Linked DNA regions of Homo sapiens. The protein of the gene in region 3 interacts with the protein of the main gene of each other region in a pairwise test. Each region holds a gene or a part of one and is shown on either strand. Other genes may lie near its edges.

Region 1 (7,110 bases), on a different chromosome or scaffold from region 3:
GCAGACACTAACCTCCTGCAGAAGCCACAAAAGGTTATTACACATAACCCATCGTTTCCACAGGCAGGCACTCTTGATGTGGAAAATTGGGATACAGCAGGAGAAGGATTAAAACAGGCTCATCAAAAAGGTCTTAAAGTCGATTCTTCTGTTTTCTCCACTTGGAGTTTAGTTCGTACTGTACTTCTGCCATTATCTCATTATTATTCTGCAGGACAGCAAGCTGAATCTAAAAATCTGAAAGAATTTGTTGACCCACCCACAGCTCCAATTAAAAATAAAAAACAGGAGAGGGAGGATAAAAATTGGCCTATACTGCCTCCTTCAGTTGCAGAAACATCTGTACTGCCTCCTTCGGTGGCAGAAATAGAAACCCTAATACAAAGAATTTAATGCTCTGCTGCCATAGCTGGAGAGCCCTTAGGACATTGTGCTTTTCCTATTTCCATCAGGCCTGATCCAAAAAATCCACAGCAGGTTATTCATGAACACACCCCACTAGAGTTTAAGTTGTTGAAGGAATTAAAAGCAAGAGTGGTAAATGATGGCATACAGAGCCCATTCACCTTAGGATTGCTAGAATCTGTGTTTGGTGCTATGCGTTTTTTACCCTTTGATGTGAGACACTTGGCGCGAACTTGCTTGTCTGCTAGTGCATATCTGACATGGAATTTAAATTGGCAAGAAATGTGTGCAGACCAGGCTAAACAGAACCATGCTGCTGGACACGGAGACATTACAGAGGATATGCTGTTAGGTCATGGCCCTTATTCAGATGTAGAACGTCAAATGGCACTCCCAGATGCTGCTTATCAGCAGTGTACACAGGCCGCTAAATGCGCCTGGGCCACAATCCTGAAGAGGGAGTCCCTGTACAATCCTTTTTACATATCATGCAAGGGTTGCAGGAACCCTATGCACAATTTCTTGCAAGATTACATGAGGCACTGAAGCGTCAGATTCCTCATACTGTGGCTGCAGAAATGCTAACCTTAACTTTAGCTTTTGAGAATGCAAACGTGTACTGTAAACGTGCACTGGCACCAGTGAGGTGTACAAAAAACTTGGGAAATTTTCTCAGAGCTTGTCAGGATGTAGGAACTGAGATTCATCGATCTGCAAAGTTAGCATAAGCAATGGCTAATTTAGCAGTTGACAAATCTAAAAGGAGCCAAGGGTCAAACCCTAAAGTGGGAAAATGTTGTAATTGTGGAAAAACTGGACATCTAAAAAAGGAATGCCGCCAGATCTCAGGACAGAAAGGATATTACAATGCAGTTCACTCCCTAGCAGAAAAAACAGCAGGACTCTGTACTCGCCATAACAAAGGAAATCACTGGGCTACCCAGTGCTGCTCAAAATTTCATCAGAATGGCACCCCATTGGTAAATGAGATGGGGGCCTGCACCCGGGCCCCTCAAACAATGAGGGCATTCCCAATGCAGACCACAACCCCACTTCAGGGATGGGTTCCTGGAGGCACATTGATTCCCTCAACCCAGGAACACCAGGAAGTGCAGGATTAGATCTACCCACCAGAGAAAGAATCACATTAGTTAGGGGAGACAAACCTATTTGGGTATTTGGGGACCTTTACCGACAGGATACACAGGACTAATTTTAGGTAAAAGCTGCCTTAACTTGCAAGGCATCACTGTAGTCCTAGGAATGACTGACTCCGATTATGAAGGAGAAATTCAAGTAGTTTTAATGTCACAAAATCTTTGGGTTTTTGAACTGGGAGAATATATTGCTCAATTATTGCTTATTCCCTGTGAATTACACCCTTCCCCATGAAAAGAGAAATGAGGAAATAAAGGGTTTGGGAGCACAACTACATGGGAAATCTATCTTTCCCAACCCATAGCCTCTAATAGACCTACCTGTGTAGTACACATTAAAGGAAAGAAATTTTATGGGCTTATGGACATGGGAGCTGATGTGTCAGTCATATCTATAGGATGGGCACATCAAACATTACAACGCATGTTGAAAAAACAAAAAGGGGGTATAGGAGGCCAACTACCACCTCAATCAAAACTACATTTAGCCTTATTTACTTTAAATTTTCTGACTCCCGGTATGGATGGTAAGACTCCAGCAGAAAGACATTGGCAAGTGTTAGAGGAAAAAAGCAAAGTTTATCTGAAAGTGTTATGGAAATCCCCAGAAGGACAACAATGGAAAGGCCCGGTAGATTTACTGACCTGGGGAAGAGGGTATGCTTGTGTGTTTACAGGAGATGGGACAAGCCATGTGGGTGCCCTCAAGGTGCATGCGACCATGGAATGGGAGACTGGAGGAACCCAGGGTGGCCAACCATGGGCCCAGTCCCTCCTGTACGAGCTATGAGTCAGCTGAGCCTGAGTGCAAAGATGGAGAGAAGGCCAACCAGAGTCATGATGACATCAACCCCCATAACCTGGGGACAACTCAAGAAAACCACACAGGAAGCTGAGAAACTACTGGAGTGTCAGGGACAGGCAAAACCCCTGATTCCATGCTCTTGGCCATGTTAGCCATAATGTCCTGTGCACTACGTTTTCCCTGTGCACAGGCAAAAACATATTGGGCATATGTTCCCAATCCCCCAGCAGTATGGCCTATACTTTGGAGCTCACTCCTCCTGAGATTTATCACGATCAGGGAGAGTGGGCTCCAGGACCCCTAACTCCCCGTGACATAGAAAAGTTAGACTCTCAGAACAATGTCATTAATTATACCACTCCACTGGAAGGACTCCCTTTGTTTATCACCACAAAGACGTCGCTCAGCCATAGCTGTCTTGCAATTCAAGCTCAAACATGGTTGAGTCACTATGGAAAAATTATGTACTTATTAGGTCTTGGTTCTATTAATGTAACTGGTGTGCTAACCAATCATTCCCAGTCCAGTCACCCTAATTGTGCTGATTATACAGAATGGATTCCATTCAATAGTTCCTACCCCACTCTGTGGACCCAGTGTCTTGATCCACTGGCTAGTAAACAATATATGTCAACTGAAGACACTGTGGATTGGGAACCTAAAGGTCAATTAGATGGAAAAGGTGAAAGTCAGAAATCATGGCACAAACTTCACTGGCATTGGCGGCAAGCTTTTAATGCTTCTTCTTTATACAACAGCAGAATCCAATCCCAGTCTGCTGCTCAGATTGCTTGGCATGGAGCAGGCTTTAGCCCACCTCTTCCTCAGTTGCATTATCTGGGGAGGAAAGGACCAATTCAAGAAACTATATGGAAGGCAGCACTCCCATTTATGAATGGCAACATCTGGATTGGAACACTGTCTAATAATAGCAATAGTAAGCAACACAGTCTTAATGTTGCATTTGTAAAGAATATCACCACTCAGTTTACAGTTTGTGTTTTTAATCCTTATGCCTTTTTGGCAGCTAAGAAGAACCAGCTTCAGGTAAACAATACCCAATTGACCTGTAAATCTTGCCAGTTATATCACACTGCATTAATCATAGCACATTACGAACACATAATATCTCTACTTTGATAATGTTGGGTTGCATCCCTGGGCTATGGATTCTTGTTAATCTGTCTGAGCCTTGGGCTGCCACACCTGCTTTGCATTTTTGTAACACTTCTTCTAACTCAGCTTACTCACTGTGTCCATAGAGCCTTAGGCATAATTTTTGCTATTGTTTCCTTGGTCAAACTAATAACTTCTGTTGTGATATCTTCTGTAACTCTGCATAATTCTATTCAAACATCTCAGTAGGTGGAGAACTGGACACGCACAGCTGACCAAGCGAGGCTACTTCAGAATAAAATTAACACTGAGTTACAAACTGAAGTGGCAATGTTGAAATCCATGGTTCTGTGGTTAGGAGAACAGGTACAAAGCTTGCAGTTGCAGCAGCAATTGCGTCATCATTTTAATCACATTCATATTTGCGTAACTAACTCAGAATATAACCAAAGTGAGTATCCGTGGGACCTTGTGAAAGCCCATTTGCAAGGAGCTTTCACATCCAACATCACCTTTGATATTGGTGAATTACAAAACAAAATTATTGATTTAAATAGGCAAACTCAAGAATTTCAGCCTTCTTTAGAAGACTGGACCGAATTCCAGGAAGGCCTGGAGAGCCTCAACCCTTGGACCTATCTAAGGCACCACATTAACATCTTATATGTAGTTCTTGGAATAATGTTGTTTTGTCTCTGTCTTCGGTTTATAGTCTGTAAAATCGGATGGACCACCAATTGGAGAATGAGAGCCTCCCAGCCCAGCCTTACATTCTTTCAATTAATACATAAACAGAAAGGGGGATATGCAGGGAGCCAAAGGCCTGTGGGACGTGACCAACTCAGCATTCTGCTGGAGGCTATATGATCAAACAGCAAACTGTTTATCATGAATACAGGATGTGAGCAAACTCAGGACTGCTCCTGCCAACATAAGGTTTGCTGGAGGCAATCACTCCCTGGCACCGAGGTTATCTACTGCGACATCTAGAGAATGCAGTCTTGCAAGCCTACTCTGAACTGAGCAGCCGACCCCTTCTTCCACCCCCCCACCCTCCTATCTCTTTTGCCTAATAAATACGGAGGGCTGTGTAAAGCTCAGGGCCCTTGTCCACTAGAGGTAAGGTGCTCCCTGACCCCTTCTCCCAAATATACTCTTTTGTCTCCTGTCTTTATTCCCACGTTCACCCCCATTTGTGCAGTCCCATGGGTCCATGTGGGTTACGGCCCGCCACCGCGCCTGGCTGATTTTTGTATTTTTAGTAGAGATCGGATTTCAGCATCTTGGTCAGGCTGGCCTTCAACTCCGGATCTCATCACACACCCGCCTCAGCCTCCCCACATGCGGTTATTATAGTTGATATGTCTGAACCAAAATGATATGGGAAGCTTGAGAATAAAAGGTTGGAGACAATATGCCACAGAGAGAGTAACCAAAGATAATCTGTTATAACTATATCTCAGACAAAACTGACCAGAAATCCTAAAGAATTAACAGAGAGAAAGAGAAACAATGCTCACTGAAAAGAGGTGAAATTTGGCTCTTCATTCATAGAAATACACCATATGTATACCCCTAACAACAGTCTTGAAATGTATACAGCAAAAAATAGAACCAAAAACAAGAAATAGAAAATTCAGACTAAAGACTTTAACAGACCTTTCCTAGTAACTGACAGAACAGACCATCAACAAACAAAATAAAATTTATAAATGAGAAAGAAATGAATCTTTTATCTGAGGAATGTGACTCCCTTTAAATTATCAGGTCTAGAGAGGCATTAAAATGTGACAGCAGTCTTTCTGATAGGGGTTCCCCTGAAAAAAAGAAAAAAGAAAAAATTAAAAACTAAAAAAAAAATTTAATGTGACAATAGTCACATCTCATTTCCCCCTCAAGCTAAATAATTATCTCTTAAAGCCACTTGCTATGTAGGCTCTAGACTAACTCACACTGAGTAGCCATAAAATGCCATTCACTGGACATCCTAACTCATAAAACCCCATAGTTAACAATGTACAGCCAATTGTTAATTGATATTATTTCTGTAAACCAATGAGAATTCTTGCCAAACAACTTTATGTCAGCTCACGGTTTGTTCCCTTTTGACTTTAAAACCTGTTTCTAACAAAATCCTAACAGAGCACTTAACCAAGGCAACCTGAAAGTATTTTCCCAGGCAGCTGTCCTCATTTTGGCTCAAGTAAACTCTTTAAAATTGTATTTTGTGCAGTTTCCTCTTTTAGGCTGACATAAACGATATCATTTAGAAGAACTCGAATATATTTTTAAAATTAGATTTACTGAGATAAATTTTAACAGTTTTAAATAAATGCAAAGATGTACTATAAAGATGGGCTGGAAAACAAAGCATTTTAAAAATGTCAAGTCTCCCAAATCTACAGATTCAATGAAATCACAGTCACAATCCCAAACTGATACTGAAAAGTTTAAATAGCTATAAACTTTTTTTTAAAGTTTGAAAAAAAAGTTAGAAGACTTGCCATATCAGTTATGAGGACTTATAAAGCTACTTTAATTAGGACAGCACAATATTAGTACAATAACAGGCAAATAGGACAAAGGAACAGAATAAAATCCTTATAAGCAGAATTAAGCACATATAGAGACTCAATGGCAATGATAGCACTACAGGGAAGTAGATAAAAGCTGTCTTTTCAATAAATGGAACTAAGGGCGCCGTGGCTCACGCCTGTAATCCTAGCACTTTGGGAAGCTGAGGAAGGTGTGGGGGAAAGAGAGATCAGACTGTTACTGTGTCTATATAGAAAGAGGAAGACATAAGAAACTCCATTTTAATCTGTACAAAGAAAAGTTCCTCTGTCTTGAGATACTGTTAATCTGTAACCCTAGCCCCAACCCTGTGCTCAGAAACGTGTGCTGTGTTGGCTCAAGGTTTAATGGATTTAGGGCTGTGCAGGACGTGCTTTGTTAAAATGTGTTTGCAGGCAGTATGCTTGGTAAAAGTCATCACCATTCTCCAGTCTCAAGTACCCAGGGACACAATGCACTGCGGAAGGCCGCAGGGACCTCTGCCCAAGAAAGCCTGGGTATTGTCCAAGGTTTCCTCCCACTGATACAGCCTGAGATATGGTCTCGTGGGAAGGGAAAAACCTGACCATCTCCCAGCCCAACACTCGTAAAGGGTCTGTGCTGAGGAGGATTAGTGAAAGAGGAAGACCTCTTTACAGTTAAAATAAGAGAAAGCCATCTGTCTCCTGCTCCTCCCTGGGAATGGAATGTCCCGGTATAAAACCCAATCATACATTCTATTTACTAAGATAGGAGAAAACCACCTTATAACTAAAGGTGAGACATACTGGCGGCAATACTACTCTTTACTACACTAAGATGTCTGTGTAAAGTCAAACATAAATCTGGCCTACGTACACATCAAGGCACAGGACCTTTCCTTAAACTTATTTATAACACAGAGTCCTTTACTCACATGTTTTCCTACTGACCCTCTCCCCACCATTACCCTATAGTCCTGCCACACCCCCCTCACCAAGATGGTAAAAATAGTAATCAATAAATACTAACAAAACTCAGAGACCAGTGCCGGTGTGGGTCCCCCATATGCTGAACACCAGTCCCCTGGGCCCA
Region 2 (7,445 bases), on a different chromosome or scaffold from region 3:
CGAGCCAGAAAGAAGCATTCCAGCATGATTCCTCAGATGCAATGAGGAAGGTTTACAGAATTTTCACAGGGCAACAGAGATCAAGTGGTATGAAAAGGTAGGAGTTTTAAGCTCAAGTCTCAAAGATAACCTACCTTTACATTCTCAGTCAGAATTTGACCCAGAAAGAGGAAGTTTCTTCAGGAACAGACCGTACGTTGATGAAGTAGAAGTCATTTCAGTAAAAACGGAGTACAGAACTTGGTCATAATATCTTGCATTTTATAGATTTATTAAAGATTAGTTTCAAGTTCACATTCGCTATTCAGTTGTAAACCGAATGGATGGGAGGGGAGAAAATACAAGCTCTCCACACAGGTATGCTCCTCTCTTTTCTGAGAGAGAAGGCATGGGATTTTCAGCATAAATTCCATGTTATGTGAGTGCTGTTTGAGTTCTGAAGTTCCTATCAATATCTGTTCCTGCAAGTGATCTCTGTAAGACCACCTTACATGCTGGTCTTAGTTATTGTTAAAATTGCAAGGTTTCTTCACACCCTCTTTGATAAGAAGTGTTTAGCTGGCAGAGCTTTCCCTTGACTTCTGAGTCTAGTGTGGGTTGGCCCATGACAGTGGGAAGAAATCCAACATGTTACATGGAGACCTTGTATGTAAACAAACTCTGTAGCCTTTGAAAGTGGAACTGCTTTTTACAGTTAAAGGGCTGCTAAATGGCTTGCAGATGAGATCTTCTGGCTCACCTTGATCTTCACATGAACCCATTGTGACCTATCTGGATTTCCTAGGACCTGTAGTTTCCATTTGGGTTATATTAGTGCCTCAGGAATGTGTCACTACTGGTCAAGCAATACTCAGAAATTCAGGCTGTGAGGGGTTAGATTAGAGGAAAGTAATTTAGGTGAGCTATCCAGAGCTTTCAACCTCAGGGTTTATAGGAAAAAAAAACAAAATACAAAAACCCTTAGGACTTCTCATACTCTAGCCCTGACCTTGCAGTCTCCTCTGAGGGGCCTCCTAAGACCCTTAAAATAATATTACAATAGGACTTTGAGTGTGCATTTCACAGTGGAAATAGCCTCTGGCTAGCATTACTTCCAAATGCTAGTTCCAGCTAAAAACAAGTACTTTTTATTAGTTTCTTGTCTTTCAACATTCTGCCATCAAAATATATTCATTTTATTAACTTACCGATTATTGGGAACCTGCAAAAAAAAAAAAAAAAAAAAACACACATGCTGTCTGCAGCCACTGTTTGGTTATTTTTGATAGTTTAAGAGAATTATAAATCAAGTTGTTCTGTCTACTAGAGTCAGAAATTCTGTGCTAGAATGGGACTTCTAAAATTAGGTGGTCCTGTCACTTTCTAGAGAAAGACCCAAATTCATAGGTTTAAGTGGCTTGTCTGACATACACATACAGCCAGTTAGTAACAGAATTCAGAATAGAATAGAGTTCTTTTTTTTCTGTCAGTCCGTTGTTCTACTTCTCTTTCCTTTTCTTCATGGTTGAGCAGCTTTTGGCAAAATGTGTTCCATATAGCAGTAGTTCCAAGAGATGTTAATAGATGTAAGAAAAAAAGTGTGTGTGTGTTGGGGGTGGGGGATTGCATGGTCAATTAAAATGAAGGAATGCTGAGTTTGTTTCCTTACTGTAGGACTTCTAAGAGTTTTGAACATGCTATTACACATTGTGAATTTATAAAAGGGGACAAACACTGTTTGACCTTAGACTGCACTCCCCTTCTTTATTCCTCAGAGCATCTCAAAGGACTACAGGGTCCTTTGAGAAACATGGCCCTTGATCAAGTTTACAACTCTTTGAGAAGACATCCCTAATGGAAATACTGAATGGCAGATCTATTACTGTGGTACCATGTAGTGTGTAATAAATCTTGAAGTCCAGAAAGCAAGTATATTTGCTGTTTAGAGCTATACTTAAGGTATAGAGATTCTTTTCCACCTGTGGTGTGTAAAATCAGTATTGTGTTTAATTTTGCAGGTTTTTCAAGGATCAACTAATGTGCAAATACAGTGGTGATATATTGATATTACATTTTAATAATGCTTTTGTATGGCACTTTATAGTTTTCAGACACCTTTTGTAACAGCCCTGTGAGACAGACAATATTATCCTTATTGTACAGATGGGGGGGCTCTGGAGGCTCTGAAAAGTTTTTGGTGATATTCCCCTAAGTTTATACCACAAAATGATGGAGCCAGAATTTAGTTGCAGAACTTCTGACTCCAAGTCCAGAGTTCTTTACTAGACATCTGGTTTCTTACTAGCTTTTTGCTAGCTTTTTATTTTACAGTGAAAAGTATGGAAGCAAATCCTGATAATTTTGGCTTATTATCAAATATCATTTATTTTTTATTGCAGAGACCCAGCAGATGTAACTCTCATTGTAGCCATCCCAAAGAAAACCCTTCTTTGCCCTTTGCAGTGCCACTTATTTAGGTAACTGAAGTGTATTTCCAGTACAATTTGATTTTGAACTAAGATTTGATATAGAGTTGTAATTGCTTACATAACTCTTTGAAAATGTATCATCCCTGGGTTCTCAGGTGAAGGAGGCAATTCAAAAGTAAAAAAGAATATTCGAATACAATAAATACCCTCTGTTCTCACACAAATGCTGTTTCTTAGCTAACTTGCTTTGACAACCTACTGATGTAACTTCTTTATTAATGTGAAATATTTATATTTTGAAATAAAATTACTAGTGTTGAATGAATCATGTGGTAAACTTAATCTCCTGTGTGTTGAAAAACTTGATCTTTTGTGAAGCCAAAGTTTCATGAATCCATCCGTCTCTTAGGCCTTCTGTTATGCCATTTCCTCCGGCACCATTGTGTACACTGAATTCTTAGGAGATACTGTCAACTTCGTAAGGGAAGGTGTGTCCAGGAAGTGGACACTGGGCGCCTTAAAGAGGTCAAGGGCCCTCAGTGCACAGGGGAAGGTGGCCTTGTGATAGGTAAGGAAGTGGTGAGATGGTTGGCTGAGAAGAATTGGAAGAAAAAGTTGGATTGAGGACCTGTCCTTTTTGAATGAAGAAAAAGAAGCTGAAGCTTGGCTATCTTCAATACCAAAGACAGCTGTGCAGCACTGGTAGATTGATGAAGCTGAAGCTACAGGTTGAAGCACTGTGAAGCGCCTTTCAACGGTGCTTGGGAAAGAGCTTTCTTATGCCTCAGGTTGATGTACCCAGCTCATCAATCTGGTGTTATGGAAGAAGAAATGATCCAGGCCAAGGTGTCCGGGTGGACTGGCCAGCCTCAGATTCTTTTTTACTCTGACAGGTTCTCACTGGCAGATATGGTAGTTGACAAAACATTTTTTCATGCTTCTCAGTCTGTTGCTTAAGTCTGGAATTCCTTCACGGCGTGCATACTGCTGACAACCTCCTTTTGGCCTTGCTCCTGGAGACCTTAGAATAGGAGTCTTCAGCTCCCCGCCCCCATCGTGGGGCTCTGTGCGAGCTCAGAGTTGTGCTTACAGAACTGATTCTTACCCTTCCCCTCAAGTGAGTTGTCAGAAATACACACTTGGTGTTTTCATGCAATGAACAGTTATGAAGAAACTGCTCTGTGCCTGGCACTAGGAAAAAACTTCGAAAAATAGTTTTAAGAAGTAGTGTTGAACAGTAGATGAGGCTTTTTCATGTTTCTTTTAAATTTCTTTTGAATAAGTCTAAACAGTAGTGTGAAAGATATACTGACTTCCTGCCGAATACCCAGATACTCCATTAATGATTGCATTATCAAATGTTTCCCCTTCAATCCAGCTCAAAGTGTTTGTGAGAAATACATGGTGAAAGAATGAGCAGGGTGGAGTGGAAATTGGACCTTCCGGAGAAGCCCCAGGAAGACATTACCACTGGAATTCCCGTCCCAGGGGAAAGGCCCCTCCCAACAGACTTGATTCTGGTTTTGGTCTACCAGTTTCAACCCCAGCACAGCTTCCAGAAGTCTTTGCGGGAATTCAGAGCTGATTTAGGACGAGTCACCTATCGAGAGGACGGGAAGCTTTGCTGGGGACGCTTGTCTGTCCAAGTAAGAGGAGGCCATGTGGCTGTGTGACAGATGTGTTTTGTTTCTCCTCGCCACCCTGGCGAGAAGGTGCCTGGAACCCATGGAAGGGGTCTGAGAAGAGATAAGGGCGGGGCCATGTGGGGGCGGGACCCGGCTTAGGGGGTGGGGTTGCAGGGAGCCCACACCAGGCTGGACTGCGCGGGCGGGGCAGAGGCCGGGGGTGGGCGGGGACATACGGTGACGGGCGTCGGGGACGCAGGGTTGGCGGCGGAGCCCTGGGGGGGCGGGCCCCTGGGGGCGGGGTCTCGGTTGGCGCGAGTGTCCTGTCGCCGCCGCCTCGGGCGGGTGGGCTGACTGGCGGCAGGCTCGCCGCGGCGCGGAGTCCCGGCTGCGGGATAGACCGAGGGCCATGGCCGCCTCTCCCGGACCCGCCGGCGTTGGCGGCGCCGGAGCAGTCTACGGCTCCGGCTCTTCGGGCTTCGCCCTCGACTCGGGACTGGAGATCAAAACTCGCTCGGTGGAGCAGACGCTACTCCCGCTGGTTTCTCAGGTAAAGTGGCGCCTGGCGCGGCCCCTCTTCTCCTTCCCGCCGCGGCCCGCGATGGCGGCCGCCGCTCGCACGACCGGACGGGAGGCAGCCGCTGCCCCACTTTCCGCGCCGGCACTGCGGCGTTCTTGTCGGACCGCCTGTGTGGGGCTCCGGGACGGGCCTCGGCCCGGGCGGCGAGAGACTGGATAATCCAAACTCCGGCGGCAGGGTTGAGTGGACTCGGCAGCAGGGGAGGCTGCGGGGCGGGGGTGCCGGCCTGGGCCTTTGCCCCCAGTACCTGCCTCGGGTCTGCGGCTCCCGGGTGCCCCCGGCCGGGCGATGCCCCCTCCGCGGGGCGAGTGGTTGAGCCCAGCTCCCGAGGCAGAGAGGACCCCCGCGGGGCCCCTCGCTGGTACTTAGGGCCCTCCACGATAACCGACTTTGTCACCAGTTCGCAGCCTGGTCCCGAGCCCGGCTCCTCCGCCTGGGGTATTCCTCCCGGCCTCCCCGCCCAGCGTGCGCTCCCTGATCCTTTGTCCCTCCCCGCCGTAGGTCAGTTCGCTGGCCTCCCATTCATCCCGGCCACCCTACCCCTTCCCCTGAACCTGCTGCTGCTCACTTCTGCCCGCTTCTGTCCGGCCTCGTGGAAGAGTGACGTGGAGACTGTATGACAGTTAATCCAGATGCACACCGTTTTGCCAAGTCCCGTTTGGGATGTGTGCGTTACTGTATTTGCCAATCAGCTAACCGACGCCCTGAGTTTTAGGAAAGTTTTTGTTTCTCTGAGCTGGGTTATATGCAGCTTCAGGGCTAGAATTCCTCACTTAGGTCTGTGGTAAGATGCCAAGCACTGTGGGGAGTGAATTCTGTGCCTTCGGGAGCGCGTTGGCGATGTGTGACTCACATCTAGGTTGTAACCACTTCGTGACTCATACTAGGATTACCAAGATTTTAGAGGTAGAAGAAATCTTAAAGATTATCTGACTAAAAATTCTTTCTTTAGCATCCTTGACACCTGGCCACCAGTACCCTGCTTAAACATGTTCAGTGAAGGGGAGCCTGTAGCTGTTGCATAGAATTCTAAATGCTATTATCTCTTCTCCTGCCCAGCCCTGCGCATATTTGAAAACAGCAGTTACACATGTCCCTGGATTCCTGTTATGCTGGTTAAATAAACATCCCTATTTTCTTCACCTTCGCATGGCTAACGGAGCAGTGATGAATATATCTGACACTCTCCTTCCCTTTTCCTGTGTCTCATTGAGGCTCTGACCAGTGGGAAGGGGCACTGGGATCCCTCAGTAATGTCAGACCCTCCGCTCCTCGCCTATCTCCACTAGCACAACACAACCAAAACGAGAAACACTGGAGCAGTTTTAAGAGGCAGAGAGATAAGAGAGTGATGGAGTTCAAGTTGATAGTATTTTATCCATTTTTTAAATAACACCTATGTAATGCTTACTATGTGGTAGGCCAGGTTCTAAGCACTTTGTAAATATTAACTCATTAATTCTCATAACAATCATGTGAAGTTGGTATATATTCTCGTGGTATGGGAGAGGAAACTGAGGAATACTGAGGTTAAATAATTTGTTGTTAGGGCTTTCAATAAGTGCCAAACTGGGATTTGAATCCAGGTACCCTGGCTCCAGAAGGTTCTCTTTGCTACACTATGCTGTGTCCTCTCTAGAGATTAGAAGCAGTAATGAGATCTAGAGAAAAAGATGGTACATAGTGGAAAAACAAGCTAGAAAGTCATAATCTGGAGAAATGGCAACTTTTCACAGTATCCACTGCTAAAAATGTATCAGTCTTACAGCTCTGCATTGTGTAACTCTGGGGTAAAAGAAGCCAGAGAAGGGTAGGAGAGCAGAGGAAGAAAAGTATAAATCACTGCTGAGAGTTAGAGGTCAATGCCAAAGGGGAAGAATGCCTGCCTTTTTTTTTTTTTCTTTTTCCAGTTAAAGCCTTGTTCAGGGTCACAGCTGAGGTTTTGCATCCCACACATTGTGTATCTACAGCTACATCTCTACCACAACACCATAACTGATATTCCTCATAATTGACTGTCCTTAACAAGAAAAAGTTAAAATCAAGAAGTGTATTAAGCATGGCCAGAATACTCGGTTAACAAAGCAGGGAAGTACAATTTAGAATGATTTTAAAGTTTCAGTGTTAGGAGATTAAAACAGCAGTTCTCCAGAAAACTCATATGTCCACAAGTCTCATTTTCTGAGAATGCTGTATTATTACCCAACTCATGTTTCACCATCTCATCCACAAGGATATTTTAAGCATTTTAAGCAAGGATTTATTGTGTGCTTATTTGTTGCTGTTTTTTGAGGGGCTTATATTCTAGTTGGTAGATAGGTCATGTATAGAACAGCACATGCAAAGTGTCAAATGAACATCATCAATGGTACATACTCTAAAAGCTCAGAGAAGGCATGGATGAGTCAGCAGTGATGTCATGGAGGAGGCAGGGTTTTGAGGTAAACAAGTAGGACTGGCACTATACGGTTTAAAGTAGACAGTTTCTATTCTGGTATCATCTAGCTTCTTCTGACTCTCCAAGTGAAAAGTCCTGGGTTACTGGCCTTATTCTAAGAATGCAAGATTTTATCAATATTAGAAAAATGTGTATAGTTTTTTTTGCATTCACAGATTATAAAAGATGTATTTTCCTAACAATGATGCAGAAAAAGCATTCAACTAAATTCAGCTTCTAATAATGATAAGAAGCACTTAGGGAACTAGTGTTAGGAAAAAGTGTCCTTAACCTGATAGAGTATCTACAGAAAACTTTTACTTAACATCATAGCAACAGTCAAATTTAAAATAAACATTTCCTTTAAAGCCAGAAACCAGAGTGGGGTGCCTGCT
Region 3 (7,110 bases):
AGTCTGTGAAAAAAATTACTTAAAATCAGATTTGTTGATGGTCAGACTTGCCCTTCTAGAATGTAAGCTCCACAAGAGCACATATGTTTCTGTTTTGTTCCTATATCTCCAATTCCTAGAACAATGTAAGAAATATAGATTCTCAGTAATTATCACCGAATATATAAATCATTAAGTCAGATTTTCTCAATACTCTCGCTAAATGCCTAAGAGATGTTTCTGAGACACTACCCTGGTTCTCATCAAGAATTATTCATAGTAACAGATTAATTTAACATGGTATACAGAGTTAAAGTAATGCAATTTAAATATGTATCATTAGTTCCCTCTCTCACACTATACACTTTTGTAATAAAAATCCTTGCTATTAAGGCTGATTAGTTTGATTAGTTTTCTCTGCTCTTCACATTTCACTGTGAGAGGGAGGCACTTCTATTCGCCCAAAAGGAAAATATATAGAATTCTTTCAGCTTCTCTCAATTCTTCTAAGTGTTCATTTTTTTCAGAGTGGTTAGTCTATAAGTTTACATATGTACTAGACCTAAATAGGATATTAATATACTACTATACATACTTTCAGTTGTAGAGAAGGATGTATCTAGTGTTAACTCATCCAGAGGAATCACAAGTTGACCTCCTGCCTCCCACTTCTTGCGATCAGATGAAACTGATTTTTCTTTTTCATGCTCTTTGGCATCTTCATGAACATTTATCTCAAAAGTATCAGAGAGATTCTGCTTTCCTTTTTCATCTTCTTGAGCTTTAAGATTTTCATTTAATCTACGAAGTATTTCTCGCTTACTCTGAAAGTCACGACATTATATATTTTAATATGTATATCATTAAGTAAAATGATTGATAAACTTTGAAAATTTTACTTACTGAAATAGCATTGTTGGTCTTTTGCATCTCTTCTGAAGTTTCCCGGGTATCAGTTAAACTACTGTCCTTTAAATGCAGATAGATACAGAGGAAGAGATAATTTTATTTTTTTAAATCTACCTTTAAAAATATTACATCCTCGTTACTTTTTGGTTTTCATTAATTTGTTCCTTGTAAATTTTTTATTCCTATAAAATGTTAACAAAGCTTCCTTCATTATCAGCAATGACTAACCTTTAAATATTATTAATTAGACAACATAGACAGGGGCCAATTCTCAATTATTTGTCATATTTTTAGATTACTGCTCACATAATTAACTATATCCTCTTCCTCTTTGGTACCTGATTTTTTGGTAATTTAAGTCAGAAAATTAGAGGAAAAAGTAGAAATTAGAGGAAAAAGTAGAAATTAGAGGAAAATTCATATACTCTCTTAATTATAACTAGAAAAAGTTTTGATAGATGAAGTAATTCAAAATAGGCTGTGTTATTCTAAAACTGTCTTTATGTTTCATGTATATATATCCTTGTTAAGCCATAGTACTAAATGTAATTGAGAAGTGGCTTTCCTCCCTAAACAAAGAGTGTAACAAAAATTAGTTCTGAGTCATTTGTACTACAAATGACATAAATGTTATCTCCTAATTAGCATTGTCAAAGCAATCCAGACTATCTAAAATTAAAAAACATACGAAAAGAAGAAATTAGCAGTTACGAAAGCTATGAAAGCAAAGGCATGTAGAAGATTCAAAGAACAATTTTCTAAGTTTTAAGTAAGTGACATTTACCAACACAACACAGAAAGAAAACCGTTCAGTTATATGGATTACCTCGAATTTTGTAATACTTAAAAAAAATTAAAAATTTGGTGGTCAGTTTCAAAGTAATATATGAAGCAATGAGACAAAGAACATTTTACCCAGTAAAGTAGTCAGGAATTAGCAGTCCTACAACCAGAGAGATGAACAGCTATTGAGATGTGAGACTGGGTACCAAGGAGGGACCACACAGTGGTATCTAAAGTTGGAGTAACAACGTGGCACACGCAAAGTCGTTATCAGAAAGAAAAAGTGACTAAGCCTACTTGAAGAACAATAGTTTCTTACATGAAGTTCTTGAGAATGATCAAGAAACTTATATTTTCCTACTGAGTTTTATTTTCAAAATCAACCCAAAGGCTATAAAAAAAAACAGCTAGTGTACCAATTTTGTCTGCAAATATTTACTGAAACTAAACAAATAAAAAGCACAGACATCCATTACCAGGAAAGGGGAAAATGAAGTTATTATGTTATCTGATTCAGTAGACTTTTCTCCTCCTGTCTGTTGAATTCTAGGCCGCAGCTCCACACTATGAGCCCACTTCTCTTAACCCCTGAACAGTCTTCACACTTCAGACAGATACCTGAAATATACTTCTAAGTTTAAGCTTTTTATTTGTCTATGTTTCTTTGTTTTACTATCTGTAGGGCATGACAGAGATTCAGAAGTAGAAGGTAAAAGGAATAACTGATGAATTAACTAGTTCTACTGAGTCCTCTAACATTTGCCATGTCACAAAATTTGAATAAATGTAAATATGTGTTGGACCTAATACCTAGAGCTACTTTAGCACCAAAGAGACATTATTCTTTTTAAAGTGAACATTTGTTAATCATGAGGGTTGGGTAGAAAAATGTTTATAGTATTATTTTCAGTACATTTCTCTGTATATTTTATTTTTTCAATATTCTTTTAAAGTAATATAAGAGTTATTGTGATATATTTTCATCTACCACGTGGTCCTAGATATAAAACTTATAAACAATGAGGCTCCAGTATTCTGAGTAAACTAAAATCCCTTAAAAAGTAATTTTTTTCCTTAGAAAAACCTGAAAGGGACATTAGGGATTAATGTGATTTCATTAAATTTAATTTCCTTTTAAATAATCTTTTGACTTTGAGGAGTTCTGAATCTTAGGAAACTTACCACGCCAACTTCTTTCAAAGCTGAAGTTACAGAAATAACAGATCTCATCTGTTGCTTTGATGGAGAGCCACCTGTTTCATGCTGTCCCAAAGGTGGAGAAACATCAGAACTCTTAACTCCTTTAGCCACCAACTATAAAAAAGGATTTTATTAAATACATTAGGGATTTTATATTTGTATGAAGAAATAAAATGGTACCTACCAGATCACTATTTATCCACTCTATCCACAAGTAGTTTTTTTCATTCCTGAATTATCTGTTGAGCAAGGCATTATGATGCTACATGCTGGGGATACAGCAGTGACTAGAGAAAAAAATCTCTGGTCTCAGATGTACACATAGTCATGTCACATAGTCCTAAATAACCCGCTTTCATTGCATTATCAATGTTTCATGAAATGATCCTGAAAAACTGTCTTTTAAAGATTCAAGTGTAAGATTTTGTTAATCTTACACTTCTAAAAGAAATGCTTTTGTAATTCCTGCAGGTTTGGGTACAATCTTCTCAAAGTTCAAATATCAATTACTCAACATAAGAGCCCTCATAAAAATGCCAACATAAATGAGAATGGAAGGAGAAACAGATCCAGGTAATAAGATTTACTTCACTGAAAACATCATGTTGTATTAACATATGTGCTTGTTTTTATGTTGCCATTTAAACTCTAAACAAAGTAAGATTATGAAACCTGAATTAATACAAGGAAATGACATTTATGGGTATGACAATAGTAACACAGCAGGAAGTTTACTCCCTACTCCCTATTCCTAGTCTTCCTCAATCTAGGAAACAAGACTTTCTGGGGAGTATACATTTCAAACACAATATTTATTGAGTATCTTCTAAAAATACAGTAATAATACAATCTTAATATTTAGGCTTCTAGACCTTCACTTTACAACAATACAGGCATACCTCTGAGATATTACGCACTTGGTTCCAGACCACTGCAATAACGGTAATATTGCAATAAAGTGAGTCACACAAATTCTGGGGTTTCTCAGAGCATACAAAATTTATGTTTACACGATTCTGTAGCCTATTAAGTGTGCAACAGCATTATGTCTAAAAAACAATGTACACACCTTAATAAACACCTCATTCCTAAAAAAAAAAAAAAAAAAAAGCTAATGATTCTTCTGAGCCTTCAATGAATTGTAATTATTTTGCTGGTGGAGGGTCTTGCCTTGATACTGATGGCTACTGACTGATCAGGGTGGTGACTCCTGGATGTTGGGGTGGCTATGACAATTTCTTAAAATAAGACAAAAATGAAGTTTGCTGCATCCATTGACTCTTTCATGAAAATATTCTTTTGATTTTGTAAAAATATTTTTAAAATTCTTTATTATTTAAATAAAGATGAGGTCCACTATATTGCCTAGGCTGGTCTTGAACTTCTGGCTTCAATGACTGTCCTGACTCAGTCTCCCAAAGTGCTGGGATTACAAGCGTAAGCCACTGTGCCCAGCCCATGAAAATATTTATCTGCAGCATGTGATGCTGTTGCATTTTACCCACAGTAGAACTTCTTTCAAAACTGGAGTCAGTCATCTCAAACCCTGCTGTTGCTTTATCGACTAAGTTTACAAAATATTCTAAATCCCTTATCATTTCAACAATGTTCAAAACAGCTTCACCTTCGTAGACTCCACCTCAAGAAACCACTTTATTTGCTCCTCCATAAGAAGCAATTCCTCATCCATTCAAGTTTATCATGAGATTGTAGCAATTCAGTCATATCTTCAGGCTCCCCTTGCCATTCTACTTCTCTTGCTATTTCTACCACATCTACACTGACTTCCTCCACTGAAATCTTGAAGAATGGAGTCAACTTCTTCCAAACTCCTGTTAATGTTGACATTAACATTAACATGACATTAACTCCATGAATCAAAAAAGTTCTGAATGGCATCTAGAATGATGAATGATGAATACTTTTTAGAAGGCTTTCAATTTACTTTGCCCAGATCCATTAGAGGAACCATTATCTATGGCTACAGCCTTAAAAAAATGTATTTCTTAAATAAGAAGACCTGAAAGTCAAAATGACTTCTTGATACATTGGCTGCAGAATGGATGTCGTGTTAGCAGGCATGAAAACAACATGAATCTCTTTGTATAATACATCTCCATCAGAGCTCTTGGGTAACTAGGTGCCTTGTCAATGAGTAGTAATATTTGGAAATAATTTTTTTTTTCTAACCAGTAGGTCTCAACAGTGGGCTTAAAATATTTACAGCAAACCGTGCTGTTAACAGATGTGCAGTCATCCAGGCTTTATTGTTCCATTTATAGAACACAAATAGAATAGATTTAGCATAATTCTTAAGGGTCCTAGGAGTTTCAGAATGGCAAATGAGCACTGGCTTCAACTTAAAGTCACCAGCTGCATTAGCTCCCAACAAGAGAGTCAGCCAGTCTTTTGAAGCTTTGAAGCCAGCTATTGACTTCTCTTTAGCTTTGAAGCCAGGTATTGACTTCTCTTTAGTTATGAGAGTCCTAGATGGCATCTTCTTCCAATAGAAGGCTGTTTTATCTACACTGAAAATCTGTTGTTTAGTATTACCACCTTTATCAATGATCTTAGCTATATCTCCTGGATAATGTACTGCAGTTTCTCCATCAGCACTTACTGCTTTACCTTGCACTTTCATGTTATGGAGGTGGCTTCTTTCCTTAAACCTTATGAACCAATCTCTGCTAGCCAACAATTTTTCTTCTGTAGCTTCCTTATCTCTCCTAGTCTTCACGGAATTGAGGAGAGTTAGGGCCTTGCTCTGGATTAGGCTTTGGCCAAAGAGAATGTTGCGGCTGGTTTGATCTTCTATCTAGACCACTAAAGCTTTCTCCATATCAGCAAGAAGGCTGTTTTGCTTTCTTTCTTTCTTTTTTTTCTAAGAGATGGGGTCTTGCTCTGTCACCCAGGCTGGAGTGCAGATCCAGGCACAATAATAGCTCACTGCAACCTTGAAATCCTAGGCTCAAATGATCATTCTGCCTTAGCTTCTCAATGTGGTTGGGACTATAGGTGTGTGCCACCACATCCAGCTAATTTTTCTTTCTTTCTTTCTTTCTTTTTTTTTTTTTAGAGACAGGTTCTCACTATGTCATCCATGCTAGTCTCAAACTTCTGGCCTCAAGCAATTCTCGTGCCTCAGTCTCCCGAGTTGCTGAGACTACAGGCACCTGGCTGTTTCGCTTTCTTATCATGTGTGTTCACTGGAGTAGAACTTTTTTTTTTTCTGAGATGGAGTCTTGTACTGTCGCCCAGGCTGGAGTGCAATGGGGTGCAATGGCTCAGTGAAACCTCCGCCTCCCTCCTGGATTTACATGATTCTCCTGCCTCAGCCTCCTGAGTAGCTGGGATTACAGGCACACACCACCACGCTCAGCTAATTTTTTGTATTTTTAGTAGAGATGGGGTTCACTATGTTAGCCAGGCTGGTCTCAAACTCCTGATCTCATGATCCACCTGCCTCGGCCTCCCAACATGCTGGGATTACAGGCGTGAGCCACTGCACCTGGTCTGGGGTAGCACTTTTAATTTCCTTCAGGAACTTTTCCTTTGCATTCACAACTTGGATAACTGGCGCAAGAGGCTTAATTCTGTGCCTATCTCAGCTTTCAATATGCCTTCATCACCAAGCTTAATCTTGATTTCAGGTGACAGACATGCAACTCTTTTACTTGAATACTTAAGAGGCCACTGTAAGTCATTAAGTGGCCTAATTTCAATATTATTTTGTCTTAGGGAATAAGATCTGAGGAGTGAGACAGGGGAACTACCAGTCAGTGGAGCAATTAGAACACACACATTCATCAATTAAATTTCCCATCTTATATGGGTGAAGTCTGTGGTGCCTCAGAACAATTACAACAGTAATATCAAAGATATAATGACAATAATGAAAAAGTTTGAAATATGGCAAGAATTACAAAAATGTGACACAAAGACACAAAATGAGCAAAAGCTGTTGGGAAAATGACACTGATAGACTTGCTTGATGCAGGGTTGCCACAAACCTTCAATTTGTAAAAAATGCAGTATTTATGAAGCACAATAAAACAAAGTATGCCTGTATTTATTTTGTTCAAAAAAGGATGGAAACATTGCTTTAGTCCCATAGTTCAGTATTATTGAAAAAGTATACTGATATTTAAGATGTTACTACAAATAGGCCGGGCGCAGTGGCTCACACCTGTAATCCCAGCACTTTGGGAGGCCAAGGCGGGTGGATCACAAGGTCATGAG

The links.
Region 1: the proteins of NEK1 (region 3) and ZNF350 interact in a two-hybrid assay, tested with the Homo sapiens proteins (one study listed by BioGRID and IntAct).
Region 2: the proteins of NEK1 (region 3) and CTNNAL1 interact in a two-hybrid assay, tested with the Homo sapiens proteins (one study listed by BioGRID and IntAct).

The regions. Positions count from the first base shown.
Region 1 is NC_000019.10:51,976,732-51,983,841, forward strand, and holds part of ZNF350 (zinc finger protein 350), read right to left. Parts: exon of another isoform or gene 7,048-7,110; intron 5,301-7,047; exon of another isoform or gene 5,004-5,300; intron 4,637-5,003; exon of another isoform or gene 4,196-4,636; intron 1-4,195. UniProt on the Homo sapiens protein: Transcriptional repressor. Binds to a specific sequence, 5'-GGGxxxCAGxxxTTT-3', within GADD45 intron 3.
Region 2 is NC_000009.12:109,010,440-109,017,884, reverse strand, and holds the start of CTNNAL1 (alpha-catulin), read left to right. Parts: upstream 1-4,385; 5' UTR 4,386-4,442; coding exon 4,443-4,583; intron 4,584-7,445. UniProt on the Homo sapiens protein: May modulate the Rho pathway signaling by providing a scaffold for the Lbc Rho guanine nucleotide exchange factor (ARHGEF1).
Region 3 is NC_000004.12:169,476,550-169,483,659, forward strand, and holds part of NEK1 (serine/threonine-protein kinase Nek1), read right to left. Parts: intron 2,986-7,110; coding exon 2,854-2,985; intron 1,832-2,853; coding exon of another isoform or gene 1,823-1,831; exon of another isoform or gene 975-1,822; intron 949-974; coding exon 883-948; intron 804-882; coding exon 575-803; intron 1-574. UniProt on the Homo sapiens protein: Phosphorylates serines and threonines, but also appears to possess tyrosine kinase activity. Involved in DNA damage checkpoint control and for proper DNA damage repair.